Homo sapiens: one gene and its partners. The protein of the gene in region 3 purifies or fractionates together with the protein of the main gene of each other region. This does not show direct contact. Each region holds a gene or a part of one and is shown on either strand. Other genes may lie near its edges. The genes, in order: P4HA1, SH3BP1, DTNA, RIT2, SEC23A, MYO1E and ANXA4.

Evidence for each region.
Region 1: the proteins of DTNA (region 3) and P4HA1 purify together in Homo sapiens (affinity purification with mass spectrometry; one large-scale study listed by BioGRID and IntAct). This does not show direct contact.
Region 2: the proteins of DTNA (region 3) and SH3BP1 purify together in Homo sapiens (co-immunoprecipitation; one large-scale study listed by IntAct). This does not show direct contact.
Region 4: the proteins of DTNA (region 3) and RIT2 purify together in Homo sapiens (affinity purification with mass spectrometry, with the first as the bait; one study listed by BioGRID). This does not show direct contact.
Region 5: the proteins of DTNA (region 3) and SEC23A fractionate together in Homo sapiens (co-fractionation; one large-scale study listed by BioGRID). This does not show direct contact.
Region 6: the proteins of DTNA (region 3) and MYO1E fractionate together in Homo sapiens (co-fractionation; one large-scale study listed by BioGRID). This does not show direct contact.
Region 7: the proteins of DTNA (region 3) and ANXA4 purify together in Homo sapiens (affinity purification with mass spectrometry, with the first as the bait; one study listed by BioGRID). This does not show direct contact.

The regions. Positions count from the first base shown.
Region 1 is NC_000010.11:73,047,644-73,052,260, reverse strand, and holds part of P4HA1 (prolyl 4-hydroxylase subunit alpha-1 isoform 2 precursor), read left to right. Parts: intron 1-1,011; coding exon 1,012-1,208; intron 1,209-4,617. UniProt on the Homo sapiens protein: Catalyzes the post-translational formation of 4-hydroxyproline in -Xaa-Pro-Gly- sequences in collagens and other proteins.
Region 2 is NC_000022.11:37,645,254-37,649,870, reverse strand, and holds part of SH3BP1 (SH3 domain-binding protein 1), read right to left. Parts: intron 4,507-4,617; coding exon 4,361-4,506; intron 3,054-4,360; coding exon 2,942-3,053; intron 2,605-2,941; coding exon 2,523-2,604; intron 2,431-2,522; coding exon 2,350-2,430; intron 1,553-2,349; coding exon 1,436-1,552; intron 18-1,435; exon of another isoform or gene 1-17. UniProt on the Homo sapiens protein: GTPase activating protein (GAP) which specifically converts GTP-bound Rho-type GTPases including RAC1 and CDC42 in their inactive GDP-bound form.
Region 3 is NC_000018.10:34,712,923-34,717,539, reverse strand, and holds part of DTNA (dystrobrevin alpha), read right to left. Parts: intron 1-4,617. UniProt on the Homo sapiens protein: May be involved in the formation and stability of synapses as well as being involved in the clustering of nicotinic acetylcholine receptors.
Region 4 is NC_000018.10:43,108,871-43,113,487, forward strand, and holds part of RIT2 (GTP-binding protein Rit2), read right to left. Parts: intron 1-4,617.
Region 5 is NC_000014.9:39,031,027-39,035,052, forward strand, and holds the end of SEC23A (protein transport protein Sec23A), read right to left. Parts: intron 2,303-4,026; coding exon 2,213-2,302; 3' UTR 893-2,212; downstream 1-892.
Region 6 is NC_000015.10:59,225,525-59,230,141, forward strand, and holds part of MYO1E (unconventional myosin-Ie), read right to left. Parts: intron 2,067-4,617; coding exon 1,935-2,066; intron 1-1,934. UniProt on the Homo sapiens protein: Actin-based motor molecule with ATPase activity. Unconventional myosins serve in intracellular movements. Their highly divergent tails bind to membranous compartments, which are then moved relative to actin filaments.
Region 7 is NC_000002.12:69,821,523-69,825,378, reverse strand, and holds part of ANXA4 (annexin A4), read right to left. Parts: intron 1-3,856. UniProt on the Homo sapiens protein: Calcium/phospholipid-binding protein which promotes membrane fusion and is involved in exocytosis.

The DNA of each region.
Region 1 (4,617 bases), on a different chromosome or scaffold from region 3:
TGAAGTCTCTATATATTCTTCTGCCTTTTTATTTTTATGTGTGTGTGGTTCTTTAGTTTTTTTTTTTTTTCCTCTCAGATGGGTAGCGTAGTCATCTTTTCTTCTACTAAAAGGTAGTTCAAAATTATGACTAGCAATTCTGAGGCAGTTAGTGGATTCCAGCTTATTCGAAAATTATATCTTTAGTTTCCCTTTTCCTTCTTACTTAGAAATTTGGGACTGAACTTCACTCAGCCCTTAGAAGTAGGCTACATTTATAATGTATCTGTGGTAAAGGTTGCTTTTGAATTGCTTATCCCCTGTCTTCCTCATGTGATTGTTTTTCTGTCTTGGAAAAATCTTTTTCATTTCTTAAAATAAGTAGGATGAGTAAGATTTTAAACTTCATTTGACATCAAATTGAACTTAGTTCCTTTAGCTGATTAGTAAATTCTCAAAGTAAAAGCACCAGTTGCCACCTTTAAATAAATAGCTGTTTCTGTCTCCAGAACTGTCTTTTTTGAGACAGGGTTTCACTCCTTTTGCCCAGGCTGGAGTGCAATGGCATGATCTCGGCTCACTGCAACCCCCGCCTCCCGGGTTCAAGTGATTCTCCTGCCTCAGCCTCCTGAGTAGCTGGGATTGCAAGCACCCACCACCACGCCCAGCTAATTTTGTATTTTTAGTAGAGACGAGGTTTCACTATGTTGGTCAGGCTGGTCTCGAACTCCTGACCTGAGGTGATCCACCCACCTCAGTCTCCCAAAATGCTGGGATTACAGGTGTGAGCCACCAGGCCTGGCCCAGAACTGTTTTTATATAGGTGACTATATGTCCTGATTTACTTGGGGGCAGTAGTAACTTATACCTATTATTTTGGTATAATAATTTTTATTAGTGCCTCCTTTCACTCACAACAGCAACCTGGTTTGGAAGATAAATTATAATGTCTCCTATTTTTATATTACTATATTCTGATGCTTGAACAAGCATGAACTTACCCATGGACATGCTTTGTTTCTCTTCTAATAGATCCTGAACATCAGAGAGCTAATGGTAACTTAAAATATTTTGAGTATATAATGGCTAAAGAAAAAGATGTCAATAAGTCTGCTTCAGATGACCAATCTGATCAGAAAACTACACCAAAGAAAAAAGGGGTTGCTGTGGATTACCTGCCAGAGAGACAGAAGTACGAAATGCTGTGCCGTGGGGAGGGTATCAAAATGGTAAAGTGGAAAAGCCAATTGTGTGTATGTGAATGTGTGTGTGTATGTGTTTGTACACAGTTCTGGAGAGAATCAGTTATTTTATATTTAAGCCTATGTGATAAAAATCAGAATGACTGCATAAAATATTACAGTATGTCAGCTTAGGCAACATAGACCCCATTACAAAAAAATTTAAAAATTAGCTGGGCATGCTGGTGTACACTTGTAGTCTTAGCTACTCAGGAGTCTGAGGTGGGAGGATCACTTGAACCAGGAGTTCAGGGGCACAGTGAGTTATGATTACACCACTGCACTCCAGCCTGGGCTACAGAATAAGACCCTGTCTCTAAAAAACTTTTTTTTTTTTTTTTGAGATGGAGTCTCACCCTGCCACCCAGGCTAGAGTGCAGTGGCATGATCTCGGCTCACTGCAAATTCCGCCTCTTGGGTTCAAGCGATTCACCTGCCTCAGCCTCCTGAGTAGCTGGGATTACAGGTGCCCGCCACCATACCCGGCTAATTTTTGTATTTTTAGTAGAGATGGGGTTTCACCATGTTGGCCAGGCTGGTCTCAAACTCCTGACCTTGTGATCCACCTGCCTTGGTCTCCCAAAGTGGTGGGATTACAGGCGTGAGCTGCTGTGCCCAGCCTAAAAAACTTTAAAAAAAAAATTACAGTATACCATTCTCTCTCTGTGGGTGCCACATTTAATATGTTCCAATTATTAGTAAAATAGCTTTAAAATAAAGCTTGTGAATCATATACTATTACATATGTTTGGGGCAATATTACCTTTTTCATTTGATCCTTCCAGGGTGAAGGATCAAATAAGTTTAAAGGAAGTGATAGTTTTTTTTATATTTAATGCAAGAGAGATTTCAGCAGTATTTTTTTTTTTTTTTTTGAGACAGAAACCCACCCTATCACCCAGGCTGGAATGCGGTAGCGCAGTCTCGGCTCACTGCAACCTCCGCCTCCTGGGTTCAAGCAATTCTTGTGCTTCAGCCTCCCAAGTAGCTGGGACTACAGGCATTCGCCACCATGCCCGGCTAACTTTTTTGTATTTTTAGTAAAGACGGGGTTTCCTTATGTTGGCCAGGCTGGTCTCAAACTCCTGACCTCAGGTGATCCTCCCGCCTCGGCCTCCTAAAGTGCTGGGATTACAGGCGTCAGCCACCACACTCATCTGTTCAGCAGCCTTAATTAGAGACAATAACACTACTCTGTGCATCTTATGAGATACAACAGATTCATCTATACAATAATCCCTTGTAGTTTTGCTCCTAGTTAATCTTCACAAGATTGCTTAGTGAAATGCTTTAGTCTGTTTAATACTGAAAATGCAGAAAGTTTTCAACAGATTTTGTCTTTAATATTTCTTTAAAATATATCTATAAATATTACTTTGTTTATTGTATATGTATTTATAACTCAGAATTCCAGTTCTATAGATGTTAATAGATACTAGGCCAAAAGCAAAAAGAACAAAGTCTGGGGAACATTTGTTAAACAAAGTTGAACATAGGTTTTTGTTTAGCCTCAAAACTTCTCAGAACCTTTTTATGATAATGTGCATTGTGATATGATATACATTCTTTCTCAATATTAATTGATTATGGAACCTTTTGAAAAGGAATTTCATGTGGTATTAGTTTTCAGTTGAACACAGGCTTGCATAGAAGGAGTTAGTGAATTTTTGGAGTAAGTACTTTTAGGTGTAAACATTTGAAAAGTGTTTAACATTTTCTTTACTACTGGTAAACTCAAGCTGGGCTTTGCATTTCGATATTGATGACTGTTGACAGCTTAACCACTAACAGCAAAGTATACAATACGTATGGTGACACTTTCAATAGATAGGTTCATGGAGTCCTAGGAGGACATGCTTGAGCTAATGAGTAAATACAAAGATGGTGACACTGTTAGACTCATTATTTTCTTTTTTTTTTCTCTGAGACGGAGTCTCGCTCTGTTGCTCAGGCTAGAGTGCAGTGGCGCCATTTCGGCCCCTGGGTTCACGCCATTCTCCTGCCTCAGCCTCCTGAGTAGCTGGGACTACGGGCGCCTGCCACCACGCCCAGCTAATTTTTTGTATTTTTAGTAGAGATGGGGTTTCACCTTGTTAGCCAGGATGGTCTTGATCTCCTGACCTCGTGATCCGCCTGCCTCGGCCTCCCAAAGTGCTGGGATTACAGGCGTGAGCCACTGCACCTGTTCCCTCATTAAACATTTTCTTTTCTGTTTCATTACTAAATATTTTAGTATGTATCTTTTAAAGATACAAATTCAAAATAACTACAATACCATTATCACCTAAAAATTCACAAGTTTTGTAATATCAAATATCTAGTGTTCAAATTTCCGCAGTAAGCAGAAATTTTTATTGCTCTTAATAACTCTTAAGGAACAAAATAAAACTGTAGATATAAAACAAAGAGTCTGCTAATTTCCCGGTTTGTTAATGTAACACATACTCAACTTTGCCTAAGATCAAAAGAACATTCTTGCCAGGCACGATGGCTCATGCCTGTAATCTCAGCACTTTGGGAGGCCAAGGTGGGTGGATCACCTGAGGTCAGGAGTTCAAGACCAGCCTGGCCAACATGGTGAAACCCCATCTCTACTAAAAATACAAAAAGTTAGCCGAGCATGGTGGCAGGGGCCTGTAATCTCAGCTACTTGGGAGGCTGAGGCAGGAGAATTGCTTGAACCCAGGAGGCAGAGGCTGCAGTGAGCCGAGATCAAGGCATTGCAGTGCAGCCTGGGTAACAGAGCAAGACTTTGTCTAAACAAAAACAAAAACAAAAAATTCTTTTTCTCAGAATAGCTACATTCATCTCATCATTATATAAAAGACTTACTAAAAATTAAAGCCTTGGATTTGACTCTAGGTAAAGTGCATGGAGAATAAACATGAATCATTATTTGTTTTAGTATACTATTAGTATAATAATTGAAACAGACTACTCATATTCCTGCTTATGTGACATACTTGTTTTTGTTTTGTTTTGTTTTTTTGAGACAGCTTCTTGCTCTGTCACCCAGGCTGGAGTGTAGTGGCATGATCATGGCTCACTGCAACCTCTACCTCCTGGGCTTAAGCAGTCCTCCCATTTCAGCCCCTCAAGTATGTGGGACTACAGGCAAGTGCCCTCATGTCCGGCTAATTTTTTAAATTTTTTGTAGAGACGAGATTTCGCTGTGTGACCTAGGCTGATCTTGGTCTCCTTGGGCTCAAGTGATCCTCCTACCTCAGCATCCCAAAGTGCTGGGGTTATAGGCATGAGCCACCATGCCAGGCCTGACATACTTGTTTAATTAAGAGAAGTAGGCAACAAAATAACTTATTAATATAATACATAGATGATTGAAGGGAATTTGTTTTGTTGACTGCTCTATTTTTATACTGCCTAATAAAAGCATCTG
Region 2 (4,617 bases), on a different chromosome or scaffold from region 3:
TTGCCATCTGTGGCCAGGTAAATAATGATGACTCCTCACATAGCACTGCACTTTACACTTTAATTTTATTATTTCTTCTTTTTTTTTGAGACAGAGTCTTGCTCTCTCACCCAGGCTGGGGTGCAGTGGCCCGATCTTGGCTCACCGCATCCTCCACCTCCCAGGTTCAAGAGATTCTCCTGCCTCAGCCTCCCGAGTAGCTGGGATTACAGGCGCGTACCACCACGCCCAGATAATTTTTGTATTTTTAGTAGAGACGGAGTTTCACCATGTTGGCCAGGCTGGTCTCGAACTCCCGACCTCAGGTGATCCACCCACCTCGGCCTCCCAAAGTGCTGGGATTACAGCTGTGAGCCGCTGCCCCCGGCCTATTTCTTCATTTTTAGAGACAGGGTCTCATTGTGTCACACAGGCTGGAATGCAGTGGCTCCATCATGGCTCACTGCAGCCTTGACTCCCTGGGCCCAAGCAGTCCTCCCATCTCAGCCTTCTGAGTAGCTGAGACTTCAGGTGTGCACCATGCCTGGCTAATCTTTTTAATTTTTTGTAGAGACAGGGTCTCATTAAGTTGCCCAGGCTGGTTTCAAACTCCTGAGTTCAAGTGATCTTCCCACCTTGGCCTCCCAAAGTGCTAGGATTACAGGCATGACACTGGACCTGGCTTGCACTTCACAGTTTCTAAAACATTTTCCAATTCATCATATCACTCACTCCCCAAAGCAAAAGCCCTCAAAGTTTGTATGATTTCTCCCCAATTTACAGATGAGGAAATCGAGGTTCTGAGGGTGTCTTCCTCAGGCCCATCTCTGGAAGGTGGAGGGGTGGAGCTATTAGTAGAACCTGATCGAGCCAGGCGCGGCAGCTCACACCTGGGGCGCGATGGCTCACACCTGTAATCCCAGCACTTTGGGAGGCCGAGGCTGGTGGATCACGAGCTGAGGAGATCGAGACCACCCTGGCTAACACGGTGAAACCCTGTCTCTACTAAAAATACAAAAAATTAGCCGGGAGTGGTGGTGCGCACCTGTAGTCCCAGCTACCTGGCAGGCTGAGGCAGAAGAATCGCTTGAACCCGGGAGGCGGAGGTTGCAGTGAGCCGAGATTGCGCCACTGTACTCCAGCCTGGGCAACAAGAGCAAGACTCCATCTCAAAAAAAAAAAAAAAAAAAAGAACCCGATCTCTGGGCTCCCAGCTCCCCCATGCCACTAAACACCTCATCACCACCACTGGCCAAAATGCCAGAATTGCCTCTCTCCAAAGCCCTGTGGCCTGCACAGCCCCTTTGGCCTGTTCCTCACGGCAGCCTCAAAAACAGGAGCTGCTCAACCCACTCCAAAAATGGGGACACCAAGGCCCCGGGGAAAAATAGACAACAGATAGTTGGGATGGGATCTGCCTTCCTCCTGCCACCTCCCCCAGCCCGCGGCCCCTCACCCTTCTTTCTCAGGTGGCCACAGCAAGTTGGGTCCCAGGACTATGGCGATGTTGCTGGGTGTCATCTTGTTCACCTCCTGCTCCTCGGCCAGCCGTGCCAGGAACTTCATCAGGTACCTAAGGGCGGAGGCAGGCTTAGGCCAGGGGCAGAACGCACCCAGCCCTGAGAATTCTCCAGCCCAGGGTTTCCAAAGAGTGTGAAAGACACCGCCCAGAATGGTCTTAACATTGTCACAGTTAAATCAGCTTATCCACTGAGTGCCAACCCTGCAGTGGGCACTGAGCCAAGCTGAGTCCTCAGCAGCCACCCTACAGGGTAGAGATTGTTACAGTCTGCATTTTCCAGATGATGACGCTGAGTGGCCTGCCCAGAGGTGGCATGTGAAGCCAGGCGGTATGGCTTCAAAAGTTCAAGGTCTCATTTATTTCAATGCTTCGCATAAAAATGTGTGACTAATCCGGCTGGGCGCAGTGCCTCACGCCTGTAATCCCAGCACTTTGGGAGGCTGAGGCGGGTGGATCACCTGAGGTCAGGAGTTCAAGACCAGCCTGACCAACATGGTAAAACCCCACCTTTACTAAAAATACAAAAATTAGCCGAGTGTGATGGCAGGCGCCTGTAGTCCTAGCTACTCGGGAGGCTGAGGCAGGAGAACTGCTTGAACCCAGGAGGCGGAGGTTGCAGTGAGCCAAGACTGCACCACTGCACTCCAGCTTGGGCGACAGAGTGAGACCCTGTCTCAGAAAAAAAAAAAAAATTATATATATAAATGACTAATCCATCAAAGCTGCATTTTCAGTAATATTTCTTAGGATACAGTGGCAAGGCCAGGCTCAAGCCCAGGGTCCCAGGGTCCGTGACCTCAGCTGGGCTCTGGCTCTGCGGCAGGCTGGGGAGGCGGGCTCGGGCTCACCTGAGGTTGCTGAGGTTCTCGGGGGGTAGGCGGCTGCACACCTCTTGGAGGGCCTGCAGCCGGGCCCCTGGCTCCTTCAGGCTGGGGGGGAGTGGAGAGACCTGTCAGCCAGCGCAGGGCTACACCTTTGCATCCTCCTCCTCCCCATCCCCTCCCTCCTCCAACATCCTCACCTGGCTGCCCTCATCCAGTCATCATAGAGGTCGAAGGTCATCAGAGGCTCTGGCAGCTCCCGCAGATAGGACTTGAGGGCACCTGAAGGAGGGGTGTGGGGAGGGTCAGAGGCAGCCCCCACCCGCTCTCCCACTCTCCCTGTAGAAGGAACCTCCGGCCCTTGTTCACACTAACGTGTCTAGGTCTGACAGTTTCTTTGGGCTGTAGGCCCTTTTGAGAAAATGAAGGCTAGCCATCTTGTCCCCAGAAAAATGCCAAACATTTTCGGGGGGCTCATGATGGACCCCACATTAAGAACCCGAGTGTCCTCAGTCTCAACAGAATATCAAGTCTTAAAGCCAGGCTATCTTGGGATCGTTTCAAGCCACTGCACCCCCTCCCCCCCAACCTCCTGCCCAGGGCTCCCCGGATCAGGCACCTGCCACAGCGTGCGGGTCGGAGCAGAACTCCTCCAGGCTGTGGGGGTCCGAGGCCATTGTCTGCTTGAGACGCTTCAGCACCGAGGCCCCAGCAGCCAGACGGAAGAGACCCTGGGTTCGAGAGGAGGCAGGCAAGGGTCACAGAGGGGTGGGCAGGGCAGGACACCCTGGCGCACTTGTAGCCTGGGGTGTGCCACTGGCCTTTGCTAGGCCTGTGTCCCCGCTGGTCTGGCTGGCAGTGTGGGCACCACGGTGTCCACGGGCTTCAACCTTCAAGGTCTAGAATTCTGAGCAAAGGGCAGGGCTGGGAAGTCTGGGAGGAGGCGGGAAAAATCATGGGGAAATGGAAGCCCAGTCAGAAGTGGAAGGGAGGGGCCGGGTGCAGTGGCTCACGCCTGTAATCCCAGCACTTTGGGAGGCCTGTGCAGGTGGATCACTTGAAGCCAGGGGTTTGAGACCAGCCTGGCCAACATGGTGAAATCCCATTTCTACTAAAATAAAAAAAATTAGCTGGGCATGGTGGTGGGCATCTGTAATCCCAGCTACTTGGGAGGCTGAGACACAATCGCTTGAACCAGGGAGGTGAAGGTTGCAGTGAGCCAGGATCGCACCACTGCACTACAGCCTGGGTGACAGAGCGAGATCCTGTCTCAAAAAAAAAAAAAGGGTCGGGCGCAGTGGCTCATGCCTGCAACCCCAGCACTTTGGGAGGCTGAGGCAGGTGGATCACCTGAGGTTAGGAGTTCAGGACTAGCCTGGCCAACATAATCTCATCTCTACTAAAAAATACAAAAATTAGCTGGGCGTGGTGGTGCATGCCTGTAGTCCCAGCTACTTGTGAAGTTGAGGCAGGAGAATCGCTTGAACCCAGGAGACAGAGGCTGCAGTGAGCCGAGATCACGCCACTGCACTCCAGCCTGGGTAACAGAGCAACACTCCATATCTCAAAAAAAAAAAAAAAAAAAAAAGTGTAAGGGAGAAAGGAGGCCCCAGCACAGCAGGATTGCTGAGCAGCGCAGAACTGTTTTGGGGTATCTGCCACCACTAGGGTCTATCTTCAGGACAGGGGGGCAATGTATTCACAGCAGATCCAGCCAGTGTGTGGCAGTGGAGCCCCTGGTTTGAGAAGTCACCTTCTCAAATGACTCTGGGCATGGTTACCTCTCTACCTCTGTCTCCCTCTTGTGAAATTGTGAAATGGAGCCTGGAATGCAAAGGCTTCTAGTACAGCGCTTGGCCCACGCGAGCATTGACACGGGGGAGGTAGTGTGGATGCCGCAGGAGGCAGTCATGTCTTCTCCCAGGGAGCTGGGCTCGAATGAGGGAATTACAGGCACCCGGAAAGGGCAGCAAGTGGGCGGTTTGGGACAGAATGAGGGCCCCAGTGCTCCTTCCCCACCTGCCCCAGGGGACCCCACCTCTTCCTTCATGCCCTCAGAAAGCAGCATCATGACGCAGGCCTCGATGGGCAGGGCAATCTCCCGGCCCAGCTCTTGCAGGTGGGTTGCCAGCGACACCCCATACACCCTGGGGAAGTGGGTGGCTGTCATCGAAGGGGAGTGGTCTGCAGGGATGAAACAGATCAGCGGCCCAGGGCCTTCCCACCCCGAGCAGTCAGGCAGGGGCACCCCCCCTTCATGTCCTCAAGGTGGTACCACCTGCCACTGACTGTCCA
Region 3 (4,617 bases):
TAAGCAAACAAAACTACAGACTACTTGAGACCAACACTTCTCTGGAAAATCTTGGACTTGCAGTCACTAGAATCAAAGGATTTCATTGATCTGTATTTCTGTAGATAAAAGGGAAATTGCACAAAGAATACTCACCTTCTTGTCCTATCTATATCATCCGAATTTAGCAGAGGTGCTTGAAATTAACCTCCGATATTAAATAAAAGACCCTATTTGTTGTGCTTAATTCTAGAGTGTCACTGTCTATTAAGATAGCACTAGACACACGTGGCTATTTCAATTACTTAGCATTAAATAAGATTTGAAATCTGTTTCATCAGTCGCACTAGCTACCTTTCAAGTGTTTAATAGCCACATGTGGCTAGTAGTTACTATATTGGACTAAGAAGATATAGAGCATTTCCAGCATCACAGAATTTTGAACAGATTGCTCTGGAGCTCTGCCTCTCCACCACACCTAAATGTAGGTGTGGCCCAGTTATTCAAGCCCAGTTATCCTCTGCCCATCCTTATATGAGCAGAAATTTCTTTAGAATAAATTTCAAAAACTAATAATTGGAATGTATACCCTATTTAAAATATTTTGTTATTTTCTCTCACAGTCAAGGCATTCCAGATTTTACCATTTGGTATTGAATTTCAGTGAAATTATAAAAATCTACCCTTCCCACTTGATATGAGACTTCTTATTTGCAAATCAGCGGTGAAGACAAACACATATACATGGGTAAAGGGATTCACAGACTTTTCTACTCTTTAACATTATTATTTTAATAATTTCATAAATTTGCATATTTATATTAACTCAGCTAGTTAGTAGCATGATTCAGGCATTCCAATTCTTAAGCCAAGACTCTTTTTCTACACCATGTTGCCTATACATGTTCCATCTAAAGAGTTGGGAAGTCAACAGTTAGACCAGCATATAGCCATGTCTATGACTTCTTGCAGCTTTTTTTCTTTCTTTCTTTTAATTGAGATGGAGTTTCACTCTTGTTGCCCAGGCCGGAGTACAATGGTGTGATCTCGGCTCACTGCAACCTCCGCCTCCTGGGTTCAAGCGATTCTCTTGCCTCAGCCTCACAAGTAGCTGGGATTACAGGCGCCTGCCACCACGCCCAGCTAATTTTTTGTATTTTTAGGACAGATGGGGTTTCACTACGTTGGCCAGGCTGGTCTCCAACTCCTGATCTCAGGCGATCCACCCGCCTCGGCCTCCCAAAGTGTTGGGATAACAGGTGTGAGCCACGGTGCCCGGCCGACTTCTTACAGCTTTATAGCTTCTAGAGAGGAAATACGAGCTCATGTGTTTTCTATATTTCTTGGATTTTCTTTTTCAGACTGCTATTGTCTGAAACAACGAAAAACTATGTAAATACGTTAGACTATTTATTTTGTTAGGACATATTCCTAGTAGTAGAACTGTAGGGCCCAAGGATATGCAATTTTTAAAGACTTTGCTACACATTGCCAGCTTGATCAACTCCCCACCTGCACCCAGTGTACACTGCTATATGATAGCAGTGTATATGTGTTCCCATTTTCCAGACTTTTCCTAAACCAGACATTATCTCCCCCTTCCTCCTTTTGCTTTCCCCTTTAAAAAATAGTTGCTAATTATTAAAATGACATGTGTTTAATTTGTAGATATTTTTAAAATTAAAAGGGAAGTGCTTTTTCTTACAGATTTATGAGACCTCATTACATAACATGGATATTCACTTTTTCTCTTTCATATATGTTGCAAATGTTGTTTCTAATTTGCCATTTATCTTTTTAATTTTGTATATAACATATTCTAGAAGGAGTAAGTTTTCATATTACCATTCCTTTATGATTTTTGTCTTTGAGGTCATCCTTTTCTATCATAAGTTCTATATTTTCTTTCACTACTTTCATAGATCCATATTTTATACTGGAATTGCCAATCCATCCAGTATTTTCTTTCATGTCAGGGATGTGTAGAGGTAAGTAATTTTTCTGAGTAAATGTTCCACCAAACAAATCAAAATTAACAGGTTTCAGATATAAAATATTGTTTATTTAAAATAAATAATTAAAAAATTAAAAACAATTAAAATATTGAAATGGTGTCTAGTGAACATTTCATAACATGTGTGTTTGAGAGTGGGGAATTATTATAGTAATACCACTCTAAAATATCCAGCTAATAATACCATGAAGTGAAGACCAGTTAATTGCCCCTTTATATACTAAAAATATAACTAATTGTTCTTTCCTAGAAATGAGTTTGCATTTTTCCTGTCAGATACTGACCCACACATTGTACAATTCTTGATAAGTTTAATCATTTTTTTTTCTATTTTTTATTATTATACTTTAAGTTTTAGGGTACATGTGCACATTGTGCAGGTTAGTTACATATGTATACATGTGCCATGCTGGTGTGCTGCACCCACTAACTCGTCATCTAGCATTAGGTATATCTCCCAATGCTATCCCTCCCCCCTCCCCCCATCCCACAACAGTCCCCAGAGTGTGATATTCCCCTTCCTGTGTCCATGTGATCTCATTGTTCAATTCCCACCTATGAGTGAGAATATGCGGTGTTTGGTTTTTTGTTCTTGCGATAGTTTACTGAGAGTGATGATTTCCAGTTTCATCCATGTCCCTACAAAGGACATGAACTCATTATTTTTTATGGCTGCATAGTATTCCATGGTGTGTATGTGCCACATTTTCTTAATCCAGTCTATCATTGTTGGACGTTTGGCTTGGTTCCAAGTCTTTGCTATCGTGAATAATGCCACAATAAACATACGTGTGCATGTGTCTTTATAGCAGCATGATTTATGGGTGGCTGGGTCAAATGGTATTTCTAGTTCTAGATCCCTGAGGAATCGCCACACTGACTTCCACAATGGTTGAACTAGTTTACAGTCCCACCAACAGTGTAAAAGTGTTCCTATTTCTCCACATCCTCTCCAGCACCTGTTGTTTCCTGACTTTTTAATGATTGCCATTCTAACTGGTGTGAGATGGTATCTCATTGTGGTTTTGATTTGCATTTCTCTGATGGCCAGTGATGGTGAGCATTTTTTCATGTGTTTTTTGGCTGCATAAATGTCTTCTTTTGAGAAGTGTCTGTTCATGTCCTTTGCCCACTTTTTGATGGGGTTGTTTGTTTTTTTTCTTGTAAATTTGTTTGAGTTCATTGTAGATTCTGGATATTAGCCCTTTGTCAGATGAGTAGGTTGCGAAAATTTTCTCCCATTTTGTAGGTTGCCTGTTCACTCTGATGGTAGTTTCTTTTGCTGTGGAGAAGCTCTTTAGTTTAATTAGATCCCATTTGTCAATTTTGTCTTTTGTTGCCATTGCTTTTGGTGTTTTAGACATGAAGTCCTTGCCCATGCCTATGTCCTGAATGGCAATGCCTAGGTTTTCTTCTAGGGTTTTTATGGTGTTAGGTCTAACGTTTAAGTCTTTAATCCATCTTGAATTGATTTTTGTATAAGGTGTAAGGAAGGGATCCAGTTTCAGCTTTCTACATATGGCTAGCCAGTTTTCCCAGCACCATTTATTAAATAGGGAATCCTTTCCCCATTGCTTGTTTTTCTCAGGTTTGTCAAAGATCAGCATTCTTATACACCAACAACAGACAGAGAGCCAAATCATGAGTGAACTCCCATTCACAATTGCTTCAAAGAGAATAAAATACCTAGGAATCCAACTTACAAGGGATGTGAAGGACCTCTTCAAGGAGAACTACAAACCACTGCTCAAGGAAATAAAAGAGGATACAAACATTCCATGCTCATGGGTAGGAAGAATCAATATCGTGGAAATGGCCATACTGCCCAAGGTAATTTACAGATTCAATGCCATCCCCATCAAGCTACCAATGCCTTTCTTCACAGAATTGGAAAAAACTACTTTAAAGTTCATATGGAACCAAAAAAGAGCCCGCATCGCCAAGTCAATCCTAAGCCAAAAGAACAAAGCTGGAGGCATCACACTACCTGACTTCAAACTATACTACAAGGCTACAGTAACCAAAACAGCATGGTACTGGTACCAAAACAGAGATATAGATCAATGGAACAGAACAGAGCCCTCAGAAATAACGCTGCATATCTAAGTTTAATCATTTTTGATGACAGCCTCTATCGCTTATTGAACAAAACCAAGATATTTTATAATAAAGTCTGATAATAACATACCAAGCACCTCTATTCCTAGTGACTTATAAATGCTATTAACATAATTAATTAAATTTGAGGGTTAATTTCTGAGAATCATACTACCCATTAGTAATTTCCACTTTCCTTCTAAGAGCATTGGCCTTTTACTACACAAAGAGGCAAGAGCTTTCTAATCTATCTTATTCTCCAAATTAATCATTATTGTCGTTATCATTATCATCATGATCATGGTACCATTACTTTCTTTTTCATTTGAAAAGTCTTAGATTTCTAAAAAAAAAATCCAATTCTTTTCATGTCAAAAATTACATAGTGGTCAATAATAAAATTCACCTTAATAAAATCGGAGGTTAAAAAATAACTCCTAAAAATGGAGTATCTAGATGATATTGAGTCATCATTCATTGGCTTGATCTTCATCTATTTTAGAAATATTTTCTTGGAATTTAAATAT
Region 4 (4,617 bases), 8.4 Mb from region 3:
TGCTTTCCCCTTGTTTATTTTGTTTCTTTTGCCTTACAGTCCACAGGGTTAGGATAACGCATGGCCACGATGTGACAATTGTTGAGCTTTGTCAGACTCAAAGTTCTGCTAATGAAGTAAAATACAGAGGCTGTGGGACATGAATGATGCACTTGGTTGCTTGCCTTGATTTAATTCATCAGATAAAGGCTCAACTTCCTACCTGCTTTCCTAATTCACTGAGGTGGAAGGAATTGGTTGTGTGCTGCTTTCCGTTTACCTCAGAGATATTGTTACTGCTTTCTCTTTATAAAATCCTGCTACATGAAACTGAATTTGCAGAGGCAACAAACTGCACATGGCCGTGGGAGAGAATATGTTTGTTTATTTTAGAAATCAGTTTTTTCTTTACAAAGAATTCACAATGGAAACATTCTAATAAATTCTGAGTTCCCTAATCCTTTTTGGGTTTTCAGTTTATTTGTGTTGTGTAACTTTTTCACAGTTAACTGAAGCATCTATTGAGCAAATCTCAAAAGATATTTTTTCAACTACCACTTAGAGACACTAAATTATCAAGATGCTGCCATTAAAAATTATAAGCCTTCAGATCCCTTTGTGCCCCTGTATACACTGTTTATGTTCAATTCTTTCCCTTGGATCTCCCCATACTTTTCTTCTTCAGCATCAAAAAAATCCTCCTCATCCTTTAAGACATAATTTAAATACCATCTATGCTGTGATTTCTTCTCAACTTTCACATCTCTTATAGCCACCCCTTATACTGAGTTTCCAAAGCTCTTACATCAGAAGCCTAATATAAACTTATTGTTTTGTATTACACATTACAGCAAATTTTCCACCATGAGATGGTGCACTCCCAGAGGTCAGGAATCACCTGAAATCATAGTTGTGAATAACACTCCCTCCCTGCTCAATGACTTGCATAGTGTTTCATACATATTTCACATTTGAAGATGTATGTTGACAACATTTCACCAAATAATTCCAAGATGTGTCCTAGGGACCAGAGAAGGACATAAAGTTCTCATCTGACATTGGGAACCTTTTTCTGCTTTTCCCATACAATTTGATAGAAAAACAATTTAGATGTAGAAAGCCTGTGTTCATGTCCAGTCCTTATTTTCTGACTTTCCTACTAGACAAATCTCTTGATAGTTCTGTGCTTAGATACCTCTCCTACTTGCCTTCTTACTTTGTGATCAAATAAGATCATAATCAGAATAAGTAAAATGTTATTTTTACCCCAATTTTATGCGATAATATCTTATTTTGCAAAATATGATCATTATGAATCTTAAATTATTTAAATCTTAAAACATTATCATTATGTTAAGTGTATGCCTGTATACGAATATTTCCTTAACTCCATATATATATATACCCACTATGTACCCATAAAAATAAAAAAAATCAGTAAAATAAAAACCTACTAACTTAGAATAAATCCCAAATGCAGATATTTTCCAAAATACCTGGAAAATAAGATATTATTTTTATTAAATAAAATCTGTTGAATAAATTTGATTCTGAACTTGGAGAACCAGATGTGAAGCCAAGGAAGACAATATTTCATCATGCTCTGGCATTGAGGAACGGCCTTGCTGTTTCAAACCACAGTGACAAAGGTCAATATTTGAAACTGTTATAAGGATTGTTTAGGCTCCATAAAACTTTAAAACTGTAACCATGAGATTATTTTTATTTTTATTTTTTAGGGTGGGTGAGTGGCGGGCAGTGGAACAAAATGAGATAGAAGGCTAAAAGAAGATGCCTAAAAGATGCCTAACATACTGAACTTTATTGGATAATTTGTCTTTTTTGTTGTTTTCTTTTGGTTTTAGTTGTAATCACAGTTTGTAATATAAGTTTCTATTCTACTGTCATTTAATGTTATTTCACTGAATGTGTATGTGTGTATATATATGTGTGTTGTTTCTTAAGTAGTTTTCTCGTCATGAGTCTTATTTTTAAAATAAACTTTATTGTGTATATTTAAGGTATACAATATGATGTTGTGGGATACACATAGATAGTAAAATATTTACTATAGGAAAACAAATTAGCATATCCATCATTTCACATAGCTACTTTTTATAGGGGGTGGCAGTATCAGCAGCTAAAATCTACTAATTTATGCAGCACTAGCAACAATAGCCAAGATTTGGAAGTAACTTAAGTGTCCATCAACAGAAGAATGAATAAAATAAATGTGGTATATATACACAATGGAATACTATTCAGCTATATAAAAGAATGAGATCCAGTCATTTGCAACAGCATGCATGGAAATGGAGATCATTGTGTCAAGTGAAATAAGCCAGACACAGAAAGACAAACTTTGCATGGTCTCATTCATTTGTGGAAGTTAAAAATTAAAACAATTTAATTCATGGAGATAGTAGAATGATGGCTACCAGAGGCTGGAAAGGGTAGTAGGAAGAGGGAGTGGAGATGGTTAATGGGTACAAAATTGTGGTTAGATGGAATGAATAAGATCTAACATTTGATAGCACAACAGGGTCATTATCATCACAAATAAGTTATTGTACATTTTAAAATAACAAAAAAGTATAATGGAAGATTTATAACACAAATAAATGATGAATGTTTGAGGTGATGGATACACCATACCCTGATGTGATTATTATACACTGTATGCCTGTATCCAAATATCTCATGTACTCCATAAATATATACATGTATAAAATATATACACCTACTATGTACAAATAAACATAAAAAAATCTACTAATTTAGCATAAACCCCAAATAAAATATTATTACCTCTAGTCCTCATCCTATACATTAGATCTCTATACTTGTTCCTCCTAAATGTCTGCTACTTTGTATACATATCTGTTACTTTGTATGGTGCAGTTTTGATTCAGCTTACTCTGTGTAAAAATTGGGGAGTGATGGAAAAGCAGCTTCAATGGTGTCAGAAGGACTGGATTCTGGATCTGACTCTGCCACTGCTGTATAAATGACCTTTGCAGGTCTCTTCACCTCTCAATGCCTCAGTTTGGCCATTGTCCAAATAATTCTTGTGTATCCCTGTTTTCTCTGCAGTTAGTAACATTCTTGGACAATATTACATATAATTATAAAAATATAAATACAAATATTAATATTATATATTTATACAGAAGTATTATGCATAGTGTTCAATTAGGTTAAAGATTAAAGCGGCATAGATGTATAAATCAAAGTGATAGCCTAGATGGTTAAGATCTCTTCTAAATATAACATTCGAGACCTAGGAAATGCATTATCAATGGATCTGTTTTCTTCTTACTAGTGAGTGATGCAACTCTTTGTTCTTCTCAGAGCATTAAACATAATGTAGTAGAGTTAGATAAAACATCACAGAACTCTAAATTATTACCCCCATGACCAGGCACAAGTTATTTTTCTGACCTCTGTTTTTTCATCTGTGAAATAGAAATACCGACTCTGACTGTGGTTAGGACTGAGTATAAGCGTGAAATACATGTAGCCCATGCCTGCCATGCAATGGGGGCTTCATAAATGTTTACGTCCTTCATAGTAACTAGTATAGGACTGTGCATAATACGTGCTCAGTAAACTTTATTGATTACTTGTGGTTTAAAATTCCTCACATAAAGTACATTCATTAACTGACATATTTTAAATCTTGTGGGAATTCCTATTTCAGTAAAGTTGCAAATTCTTTTAAAAGTTTCTATTAAAAAATATTTTGGTAAAACATGGACAAAAACATTTCTCAGGCCAGGCACAATGGCTCATGCCTATAATCCCAGCACTTTGGGGGGCTGAGGCAGGAGCATTGCTTGAGGCCAGAAGTTTGAGACCAACCTGGGCAACATAGTGAGAGCCCATCTCTACAAAAAGAAAAATAAAAAAGAATAAATATTAATATACATAAAAAATCTCCAAGATTTTAAAAATTATAGTCACCATAAATTTAGTTTTTAATTCATGTTTAAGGCTGACTTGGACTTGACTCTCAGAATTGGAAACAGATGGTAGCTTGATGCATCTTCTTTAGTTTCTTCAGAAGAGCAGATCTCTTCTGGAAATCTCTTCACACAACCCAGGGTAATGGGGTTATACAATCCCTTCATATACCTCTGTTGATCTAAGTCTTTGATATGAAAAGTAGGTTTTAAAACGTATATTTTAGAGCCATGATCATGCCACTGCACCCCAGCCTAGGCTCAAATGAGATAAAATAAACCATGTATATTTTTAGCTCATTTGAAAGCAAATATTTTAACCTTCAATAGAAGGTTAATATTAAGAATCAGTGCTTGAATGTTTATATGCTGATGGAAGAACATCAGGTAAGTCACAGGGGAAAGTCCAAGGACCAGATGATTTTCTCACTGTGATTTCAAACATTTAGTCATAAGGACAGCATTTTCCAGGTGTGAAATTGTAGTATGAGAAATATTCTCTGGTGTAGTAGCCAAGGTTGCCATTTATATATAATCAATACAACTGAGCTGTTTATACTCCTTATCCTTATCTTTCTCTGAGAATGAGCTGGTCATTCCTGTCTTTTCATCTCACAGGAAAAGTTTTGTTCAAGTACTTAATTATGAATTGACTTCTATTGTACAAAGCAAAGAT
Region 5 (4,026 bases), on a different chromosome or scaffold from region 3:
ATAATTTAGAAATAGACACATTATACACAAAAATGATCCCAGGTGATTGCTTTTAAATGGTGAACTAAAAGGGTATATTTGTTCATCCTTATCCCTAAATTCAGCTGTAACTGATTTAGAAGTAGAGGACAGTTTAGGGCTAAGTACCAAGACAAGAAACAATGGCACAACACTTAAGAACATAACTTAAGAGGCCAAGCACTTAAAGAACATAACTTAAGAGGCCAAGCAAATTAAACAGGTGTCATCATTACAATGTCTTTCCTCAATTCAAAATACGTGAACTTGGCTGGGTGCAGTGGCTCACACCTGTAATCCTAGCACTTTGGGAGGCTAAGGCAGGTGGATCACTTGAGGTCAGGAGTTCAAGACCAGCCTGGCCAATACGGTGAAACCCTATCTCTACTAAAAATACAAAACTTAGCCAGGTGTGGTGGCAGGCGCCTATAATCCCAGCTACTTGGGAGGCTGAGGTAGGAGAATCGCTTGAACCCAGAAGGTGGAGGTTGCAGTGAGCTGAGACTGTGCCACTGCACTCCAGCCTGGGCAACAGAACAAGACTCTGTCTCAAACAACAACAACAACAAAAAACTACATGAACTTCTATCTCCCTTTTTAAAAACACACTAGCCTTACAACAAAAATGAGTAACTATTGGGAGTGATAAAAAATACTCTAAAATTGATTGTGGTGATGTGGTTACATACATAACTTCACGAAAATACTCAAAACTATTAAATTGTGCACTTTAAGTGGGTGAAGTGTATGATGTGTGAATTATATCTTAAAGTTGTTATTTTTTAAATGAGTAGCTTTTAAATCTAATGATTTTAAATACTCTAATTTTACATTAGGCTTCTCAGGTTTTACTAGATTTCAAAATAGCCAGAAAAACAGTGAAAAGTATATTTTATTGGCATTTAGGCCTAGCGTAGTTCAATTCAAATAAAATATAACAAAGCAACTTATTTAAGCTAATTGAATATAACACATAAACAATTTTTTCTTAAGTTTCTGCTTTACCATCATATGATTGTGTTCATGCAAGTACAATCATTAAAACTGTCCTCCTAAGCATATATCATAGCACCACCTTTTATTTGCAGTACTTGATATGTAAATTTCATTGTCAAAACATATCTGGCTTTATCAATGTAAACATATTTGCTACAAGTAAACTTTAAAGGTAAAAGTGAATACTAATGAATAAATCAAAATAGAACTGAGCATCACATGATATAATTAAGCAAACATTATATAATACTGTTTCAATAAGAACCACAACTTAATACATTTCACAAAAAGGAAGGAAAAACAAAAAGTAATGTGTAAACTGCCAAAATAGTGTTAAAATACTGAAGGATATAATGCAAAATTTACCTCTGAAAAACAAGGGGAAAACAACAAAACCATGCTGTGAAAACTAAATTTGGTTTAGTAGTTACAACCGTCATTTTACTGCAAAGGCTTACTAAAATGCACTCCAACAAAACCATTTATTTTCTATCTCCCCTTTTAAAAAAACTACTGCGTTTAGTCACATAAGTTGGATATTTTGTGGAAATTTCACATTTTTTGTCAGCTGCGGGATTGTTACCCAAAAAAACCTTTCATCTCTAAACTATCTTTCCAAATAACCAAAAACATTATCATCATGAAAATTACCATTATAAAATCAAATAATTCCTAAACAAATCATAAAAATAAATCTGCCTTAACCTAGTAAGTACAGAAAAAGTGTATACATAAGTGCTGAAAATTACAGAAAAATATTCAATGAATAAGCAAAAATGTTCACATTTATCATTACTATTGTTTTTTTGCTTTCTGGCTAAAATTAAGGAACAAGTTTTTAAAAGGTGAGCAAGAAAATTCAGTGCCACTTTGGGTCTGTCTGCAATATACAAATGAGTTACATCTGTAGTACGAGGCAGACTCTATTTTTTATTAAACATAATTAAGTTATAAAGACTTCAAATTTCTAGAACCAGCTATAACACTGTGGTAAGCAAAATAAATTTGTTCTTATTGCTCTCATTATAATTCCAGCTTAATCTACAAATGTGAACATTTTCCATATGTTGTCTCAAACCATACTAATACAAAAAATATAGAGCAATATCTGTTGGTTTCCACAGATAAATGGAAAAAGGAAAAAATGAAATTTGAATATTATTTCATCTTCTTAAGTGTCTTTAACATTATTAGCACTTCAAGCAGCACTGGACACAGCAAGTTTCTTCAAGTGATCCATAAACACTTGTAAACTAACATCATCTGTAAGAATAGGTGCTCCAGACTCCTAGAGGAAAAAAGATATTTGTTATGATTAAAGCATAGGGTGATATCATGGAATTTATACACAAATGTTTAAAATAGACAAGGAAATCATTTGAAATGCCTATGGTCCTATTAAATAAAAAGAATCTAACTGGCCTCCGTCCCTGGTTGCTGGGAGGGAGACTCTACATCCTTAGAATTCCCTGATAATAGGAGTGTCTTTATTCATAGGCTGATGGGATCACATAGGAGTTTATGCTATGAGATGAGATGAATCAGGATGGCGGCTAGTCACCACGAAGACTAACAATGGAATTAGAGGCTTGGTGCTTTTAAAAGAAAGCCTGACCTCCAGACCCTTTCTCCCTGGCATTTTAAGAGAAATCCCAGCTGGAAGGAAGCAAACTCATAATATCATTTTTTAAATAAACTATGCTTCTCAAGTTTTCAGGTCGTTTTAATTGATTTCTGTAGGTTCCAAGTAATTAACAAGAGTTAGGGAAAATTCCTATTATCCATTTTAATAAAAACTGTATTGACAGAATGATCTTGGTAACCCAATCCATTAACAATGAAATTTTACTTCAGCAAGAGAAGGTATTTCTAGAAGATTTTTAATCTGAATTTTACATTTTTCTTCTTATACTCAAGTTCTTATTAATTATAAATATTCAAAGTCTAAAACAGGGAAATTAAGTAATTTCAGCAAATTATTGGCAAATGTGAGATGAGAACTTATAGCTCCTGTGATTCTAGTCTGGCATAGCCACAAACATGCCATAACCTCTCCTGAATAAAGGGAAATCAATTTTATCATATGTTTATTCAAAAGAACTTGAAAGATTTGATAATGAAGGGAGGCAATCCCTTACTGGGATTAAGGGCATAGAGTCTGGATCCAGAATGCCTAGGCTCAAATTCTGGCTCTGCCACTTCCTACCCATATGACTGAATAAGTTATTTAAACTATGTCTTAGTTTCCCCATGTGTAAAACAAGGATAATAACAGGACCTATCTTACACAAGTTGTTGTAATGATTAAATGAGTTAAATTCTATAAAGCAAACAGAACAGTACCTAGTACACACAGTAGACATACATGTTTTAGCTATTTCTATTGTTCCTCCTGTTCAAAAATCTATAACAATGAAATACTTTTCTTTATTCTATATGCATAGCTAACACAGAAAAGCACAAGTCTCAAAACTGTAACCTAAACCAGTAACAACCTCATGGCTCTTACTTTTTTCTTCCTGTAACTATGCCTGATTTTATTTTCATTTTACAATGTTTTCCATCTCAAGTCACCCAATCTCAGAGCCATTTCTCCTAGTCAAGACAAAATATAAGGATTTCCTAATTTATATACCACAGAGCTCCTGCTTGAAATGATAAATACCAATGCTCATTCGATTTTATAAAAAATTAGCAGTTAGCTGATCTCAACTTTTCAAATGGACCCTTTTTCTATTTAAAATATATCCAGGATTAGGCAGAAAGGTACAAGCTTTACATTATTTAGTATATGAGGCACTACAGCAACAGAGGCCTCCAGCACTGTCACAGAAGTGTTGCAGTGGTGCCCTCTTACGGCCGTTCATGGATAATACTTATCATAGGGTCCTTGATTTCTGACCCCCAAAAAATCCTGTAAGCTATTAGAGTCCATTAATTTTTAGTAAAATTCTTGGTTACTGTTATTTCCTTTAAATGCAATCATCAAATTAACTTGATTAAAAATTCAGA
Region 6 (4,617 bases), on a different chromosome or scaffold from region 3:
TCTTCAATGCCTCCCGATCCTACATATCTAGAAAGTCCCCTGGTCCTGTGTGGCAGGATTTTCTCCCCACATCCACTCCCAAGTATTTCGTAGCTTCAAGAATTTCTTTTTCTTTCTTTTCTTTTCTTTTTTTTTTTTTTGAGACGGAGTCTCACTCTGTCGCCCAGGCTGGAGTGCACTGGTGCGATCTCCGCTCCCTGCAAGCTCCGCCTCCCAGGTTCACGCCATTCTCCTGCCTCAGCCTCCTGAGTAGCTGGGACTACAGGCGCCCACCACCACGGCCAGCTAATTTTTTGTATTTTTAGTAGAGACAGGGTTTCACTGTGTTAGCCAGGATGGTCTCGATCTCCTGACCTCGTGATTCACCCACCTTGGCATCCCAAAGTGCTGGGATTACAGGCGTGAGCCACCGCACCCAGCCAAGAATTACTTTCATGTCAGAATCTTGAACCCCTGCGCCCATCAGTTCCCAGCCTCTATTCTGGTGGTTTCTGACTTAAGGGCAGAGAACTCCTGGGGGAGGGTTGGGGCTTGCATTTATTTAAAGAAGTCCTGACATCCATTATACACTTCCATCTAGCACTGGGTATTATTTATGTGAAATATATAATTATTTTTCACTTATCTATATATGTTGCTTTAATACAATTTTAAAAATGACTGAATTCACAGAAGTTTTAATCATTTATATACTTTTTCAACCAACAGGTACAAACTAAAAGAATTATTTGGCATTGCCTAAGATGTGTGTGTAATTGAAAAGATTGAATGTGAGCTACTTCCACAGTTTAATGTCCTTCTAATCCAGTGATCCACAAACTAAACACGAAATGAAACAAAACAAAACAAAAAACAGTGACCAGGTCTTTCTTCGAAGAAAGTCTAATGTGGATCTTCAATATAAAATACTAATAAGTAAATAGAACATAAAAAATTTGGTTATTAACATCATTATATTTTTTAAGTACTTAAAAACCTTTTACAAAAGTACCTGAATCAGGGCCAGGTGCAATGGCTCACGCCTGTAATCCTAGCACTTTGGGAGGCTGAGGTGGGTGGGTCACTTGAGTCCGAGAGTTAGAGACCAACCTGGGTAACATGGTGAAACCCCACCTCTACGAAAAATACAAAAATTAGCCAGGTGTGGTGGCATGTGCCTATAGTCCCAGCTACTTGGGAGGGTGAGGCAGGGGGATCATTTGAGCCCAGGATGCAGAGGTTGCAGTGAGCCAAGATTGTGCCACTGCACTCCAGCCTGGGCAAGAGAGCAAGACACTGTCTCAAATAAAAAAATAAATAAAATAAAAGTAGCTGACTCAGATGACTGCTGAAGCCTGTAACATAATCAAAAAGCACCCTGCAAGCTGCTCTGGCCCCAAACTCTCCATGACTTCTGAGGGTCTAGGTGGCAACTTTTCAATTTGGCATTAAAGATCCCAAACCTATCTCAAATCTTTCCTCCGGTAGCTCACGTTCTGGAGACGCCTGCCCTGCAGGCAGGCTGAGGCCGGGCTCCCTGACTGGCTTTCCCTCTCCCACCTCCACTGCTTTGGTGCAGGTCACCTGTCTTCCCTCATCAATCCCCTCCACTTTCCATCCGGGCTCTACCTCCTTCACACCTCTCCTACTATCCGGCCAAACCTGCCCACCTGAATTCCTTTGGCAAAGACTCCAACACTCCTCGTTTTGTTTTGAAGTTACATCAATACTTTCTTGATGATTTAGCTTTGGAGGAATTTCTGTCTTATCACTCCAATTAGAACTCACTCTCCTTGAGGGCAGGACATTCTCACAATTCTGCACATTGACTTGTACATGGTATCATCATCAGTCCTCCCTGGCTTCCTAGACTATAGTCTATGCCTGAAGTCTGAGAAATATTTTAATGTAGAGAAGGGACAGGAAGTGGGTAGGAAAAAAGTAAACAGGAAAACCTGGTAAAATATGTGAAAACTCCGCTCTCCTGGGTTCCTCATCACCACCCTAGATTTTTCCAGAAGGAAGTTGGAGATCTTTCCACCATCTGGTTCCCCACCTGGACTGAACTGGATTTCAAAGTATTTTCCCTGCAAGAAAGTTAGGGATTTCCTTCAATGGTTGGTGAACAAAACATGATGTCCCAAACAGGCTTTGAATACAGTATATAATTCAAGGAAATTCATTAATAAAATACACATTCTGAATTACTCCTAATTTGAGTCTAGACTTCCTTAGTTTTCAATCAGACAATAACCCGTGCTTTTGTCCAGCCACACGATTCTGTTAGAGAGAGCACCTATCATTCCAGCATGACTAAATAAGGATATGCTCTATTCCTTGCTCATTTTCCCCCAGTAGGTGCCTGTCTGCTCAACCAGAAGGTGTAAATCATGAGGCAGAAAAATGGCATGGCACCCTTTCAGAGGAAGAGCACTCTTGCTCTGTCAGGCTTCATCTCATGGCTTTGAGCAAAAACACTCAATCTCTCTTACCTACGGAGCATCTAAAATGTTTATCTAGAACGGAAACACTTTATTAAAAGTAAAGTTCTTTCTAGCTACTGACGGGCCTAGGGATTTTTGTCACTGTCATTGTTATGAAAATTCCTCTTTAAATGACTGCTAATAGGGAACAAAGGAGAATAAAAACCTAGACTGTAGTTGAAAAGGTATCTAGGTTGTTATATTAATTATATATAGCCAGGCGCGGTGGCTCACGCCTGTAATCCCAGCACTTTGAAGGCTGAGGCAGGTGGATCACTGGAGGTCAGGAGTTCGCAACCAGCCTGGTCAACATGGTGAAACCCCATCTCTGCTAAAAATACAAAAAATTAGCTGGGCATGGTGGCGGGTGCCTGCAGTCCCAGCGAGGCAGGAGAATCGCTTGAACCTGGGAGGTGGAGGATGCAGTGAGCCGAGATCATGCCACTGAACTCCAGCCTGGGCCAGAGAGCGAGACTCTGTCCAAAAACCAAAATAAAATGAATCAAAATTATATATATAATTATTATAACAATTATTATATATATTTCATATGTATATTTAAATTGGTTTTTTTTTCTCACTAGAACTTAATTTGTCTCCTGTGCTTAGAAACTTAAGCACCCTCAGAGGCCAGAAGGGTAAATACGGATAAAGGAAAAGAGGGAGTGGTGTGGTCTATGGTCAAACTGGAGAAGATGCCCAGCCTCATCGCATTCACATTTAATAACATAAAAATGTGTATGCTGACTAAATCCACCCATCTCAGGGATGAATTCAGCTGGGTTTTATGTCTGTGACTGGAGCTGTAAACTCATTAAGGGCAAGAAAAGTACTGTGCACACTGCAAATGTGTGAGTACATGCCGTGTTCCTGTTCGTAATTATTCTAGGTGTCAAGAAAGACCACCGAAGGCGGCCAGCCTCTAACTGTCTATGTGTCTTAATCTGATGATTCTTTTCCTCCAGGCAAAAAACAAAAACACCCAGCAGCACCAGGCACAGAGAACCACCAGCCATCGCTCTGCGGAATGTCAGTGGCACCTGAGAAAAGCTCACTGAAAGAGAGCTCCCGTGCTTCCTTTGGCGGCCACCTTCACCACCCTTTCCTTTTGGCATGTGATAGAGGGAATACTTCAGTGCCTGTCCCCCATTCCTCAACAGTTGAGGGAAAATGAAACCAAACAGAACATCTGACCCAGGAAGGGCAGGTGTTGGACAGGCAAGCTCCCAAGTCCTCCTAGCAGCAGTGCTCAACCTTGGATGCCCCTTAGAAACACCTGGGGAGCCTTTCCAACATGCTGTCAGCCCAGGCCACGCACATCAGACTCTAGGACCAGGGCCCGGAGCTGTGTGGTTTTCAAAAAGCACCCAGCTGATTTTTATGTGTGGTCAAGGTTGAGAACCACTGCTCTAACATAATAAAATGCATATGCATGGCTCATAATTGTCATATAAAAGTTAAAATTTCTAACAAAAGGTTAACATATTTAGGACTGCTGTATAGCAGCCTGGGGGGGATGACAGGAAATTTTATAAAGGGAATAAAAGGTTGCATTTGCATTTTGATAATGAAATGAAAAGAAGTTTCACCTCGACTCTTGGTAATGATTTATTTCCTAAGCTGGGTGCCAGATACATAGATGTTCATTGCATTGTTTTTAAATCGTGTTTGAAGTATTTCGTAATACATTCTTTAACTTGAAAAGATTTGTAAGTGTTAAATATATACATTCTTATGCTTCATAATACCTGTGCATTTTTTAAAGTGAAATTACTCATAATTCTACCCTGATGCCACTTCTTCATTCTCTTGCTAAATAATTACTGTCATAGATGTCAAACTTTGATTTACATACCTCTTAGTTACCTTTCATATAATGTGCACATTAAAAAAAAACAAGAACATATTGTAAATATTGTTCTGTAATCTGTTTTTTTAATTTAACAATATATTATGAATATCTTTTAAAATAAGTAGTTATTTAAGCAGGAAGCTTATGTAATTTATTCTAAAAGTATTGTTGGGCAAAGATAATGAACGATTAAAATTTTAATAACAATTGCCCAATCACTTTCCTGGAAGAATGTGTCAGTTCTCAACCAATAGCGTGTTTTCTCGATTATTATCAATCAACTTAATGTTTGCCCATTTGAGA
Region 7 (3,856 bases), on a different chromosome or scaffold from region 3:
TTTCAAGCTTGGCTGGATTTTTCTTAGCTTTAAATTTTTTTTGTTATTTTTTATTACGAAGGTAATACTTATTCAGTGTAGAAAATAAAGACAAAAAAGAACACAAAAATCAACCATTATTCCATCATCTAGAGACTACTATTCTTACCGTTTTGATGTGTGAATGTCCTTCCAGTCTTTTTTCTATGTATCTAGATACCCAATGTGATAGAACAGTAGTATTCTGTGTTCTGCTTTTTCACTTAACAATATAGCCTATTTCCCTATTTTGTTCATTTTTGTTTGTGGTTTTTTTTTTTTTTTTTTTTTTTTGAGACAGAGTCTTGTTCTGTCACCCAGGCTGGAGTGCAGTGGCGCCATCTTGACTCACTGCAAGCTCTGCCTCCCGGGTTCACGCCATTCTTCTGCGTCAGCCTCCTGAGTAGCTGGGACTACAGGCGCCTGCCACCATGCCCGGCTAATTTTGTTTTTGTATTTTTAGTAGAAATGGGGTTTCACCATGTTAGCCAGGATGGTCTTGATCTCCTGATCTCATGATCTGCCAGCCTTGGCCTCCCAAAAAGTGCTGGGATTACAGGCGTGAGCAACCGTGCTAGGGCCCTATTTTGTTAAATATTATTCTACAACATTATTTAATGGTTACAGAATATCCCATTGTATGCAGGTAAAATAATTTATTTGATCACATCCTCCCTCTCCCTATTGTTGGATATTTACGTTGTTTCAATTTTTCACTATTATAAACACTGCTTCAATAAGCATATTGTAGTTACATTTTTGTATATTTTCTTAATGATTTATTCTGGATAAATTTTCATAAAATGGGAATTACTGGACTAAATGCATTTTCTTAAACCTTTTTTTTTTTTTTTTTCTGAGACGGAGTCTCGTTCTGTGGCCCAGGCTAGAGTGCAATGGTGCAATCCTGGCTCACTGCGACCTCCGCCTCCCAGGTTCAAGTGATTCTCCTGCCTCAGCTGCCTGCGTAGCTGGCACTACAGGTACACACCACCACGCCTGGCTAATTTTTATTTTTTTAGTAGAGACAGGGTTTCACCATGTTGGCCAGGCTGGTCTTGAAGTCCTGACCTCAAGTGATCCACTCACCTTGGCCTCCCAAAGTACTAGGATTACAGGTGTGAGCCACCGCACCCAGCCTGTTTTCTTAAACATTTTGATATGGGTTACAAAACAGTCTTCCGGAAAGGTTCTATAATTTCTGCATATAAATTTTTGTGGTCTAATAATTGATTAATTTTTTAATCTTTAATTTTATTTATTTATTTTTATTATATTTTTAGAGACAGGGTCTTGCTCTATCACCCAGGCTGGAGAACAGTGGTGTGGTCATAGCTCACTGCAGCTTCGAACTCCTGGGCTCAAGTGATCCTCCCACCTCAGCTTCCCAGAATGCTGGGATTACAGGTGTGAGCCACTGCACCTGGCCTAGATTAATTTTTATTAGTCATTCGTGGGGACTAGAAAAGATGGAATCTCTGTATATAGGGTTCAAAGTTTAATAAGTATCTGTTAAGCTCAATCTTAATATATCCTTGTTTATACTTTGCCTCATTGATGTGCCAAAGCATAGGATGTATTAAAGTCTCTCGCTAGCATACTAATTCCATTATATGTTTTCTTCTGGAGCCTCAAGTTTCTTATTTATACATTTGAATGCAATATAATTTGGTACTGAAAGTTTCATAACAGTTTAATCTTTGCTGTGAATTGTTGCCTTTGTCAGTATAACGTGATCCACTTTCTCCTATTTAATACTTTTTCTCCCTAAATTCTTCTTTTTATTAATAGCATAATCTCCGCTTTCTTTCTTGTATGTCCGCTTTCTTTCTTTCCCTGGTGTTTTTCTTTAAGCTTTTTACATGTCACTGTATTTTAGTTGTTTCTTATAAACAGCATGAAGTTGGATTTTATATTTTTACCTAACCTGAGAGTTTATTTATTTTTATAACTTTTATTTTTATCTTTTGTCATTTTTTTCTATTATTTACATATTTTATGCTTCTATTCTGCTTTTTTCATTTCTTTTGACAACTATTATTGAATGAGTAATGTATTCTTTATTTTTAATCTTTTCTAGTGGTGTGTGTGTGTATACACACATATATTTACATATTTATATATACAGACATATATACACTAGATTATAGTGTTTTCTTCCCAAGCCAATCAATATATTTGTACTCAATCATTTTAGTGTTGGTATAGTATTATATTGTATGGATTTTCCATAATTTGTTATTCCCTATTGATTAATAGTAATAACAATATATAATAAATTATATACTATAATACCATATTATTGATATAAATATAAATAACATAAAGCCATGTAAATAATATAAATAATGCTATGATGAAGTATTATACTTCATCTATTCTTTTCACATTTCATTAAACAATTTTATTCAAATTCAGAGACTTTTTCTTGTGGTAAAAAAATATATATATATAATTTGTCATTTTAACCATTTTCAAGTGGCACTAGTTACTTTTACAATGTTATGTAACCATCATCACTGTCTATTTCTAAAACCCTTTCATCACCCCAAACAGAAACTCTGTACCCACTAACCAATAACTCCCATTCTTTCCTCTCCCTCCAAATTGCTGGTAACCTCTAATCTACTTTCTGTCCCTATGAATCTACCTATTCTACATATTTCATAAAGCAGAATCATACAATATTTGTCCGTTTGTGTCTGATTTATTGCACGTAGTATATTTTCAAGGTTCATTCACGTATCAAAAATGTCATTCCTTTTTTTCATGACAGCGTACCATTGAATATCATTGCTTTTTATGTATGTATATACATTTTGTTTATCCAGTCATCTGTTGATGGATATTTAGGTTGTTTCCACCTTGTGCCTATTGTTAATAATGTTTATGTTGATGTACAACTAGCTGTTTGGGTTCCTGTTTTCATTTAAGTATATAACTGAGAGTGGAATTGCTGGCTCATATGGTCATTCTATGTTAAAATTTTTTCTTTTTCTTTTTTGGGATGGGTCTTTACTCAGGCTGGAGTCTTGAAGTGGTACAGTCATGGCTCACTGCAGCCTCGACCTCCCCAGCCTCAGGTGATCATCCCACCTCAGCCTCCTGAGTAGCTGGGACTACAGGCGTGCACCACCACACCCGGCTAATTTTTGTTGATTTTGTAGAGACAGGGTCTCACTATGTTGGCTAGGCTGGTCTCGAACTCCCGGGCTCAAGTGATCCACCTGTCTCGGCCTCCCAAAGTGCTGGGATTACAGGCATGAGCCACGATGCCTGGTCTATATTAAACTTTTTGAAGAAGTTTGGTGCTTAAAGTTTCGTAACAGACTGTTTTTCACAGTGGCTGCACCGCTTTATATTCCTACCAACAGTGCACAAGAGTTCTAGTCTCTCCATATCCTCCATAAATCATTTGTCATTTCCTGGGGTTATTTTGTTTTTTTCTTGTTTGTAGTATATTTTCCCATAACTTCACTTACCGTCATCCTTGAATCTTAAACTAGTTATATAGTTCAGCTCTGCAAAATCAAGTTACCTCATAGCCTAGTCAGAAATAGAAACAAGTTCCTGCATGCCTTGTAGACGTAGTAACAAAATCCACAGCTTGGTGGGGCATGGTGGCTCACACCTGTAATCCCAGCACTTTGGGAGGCCGAGACGGGTGGATCACTTGAGGTCAGGAGTTCAAGACTAGCCTGGCCAACATGGTGAAACGCCATTTCTACAAAAAATACAAAGCTCATGCCTGTAGTCCCAGCTACTCAGGAGGCTGAGGCAGGAGGATCACTTGAACCTAGGAGGTGGAGGTTGCAGTGAGTGGAGATTGCGCCACTAC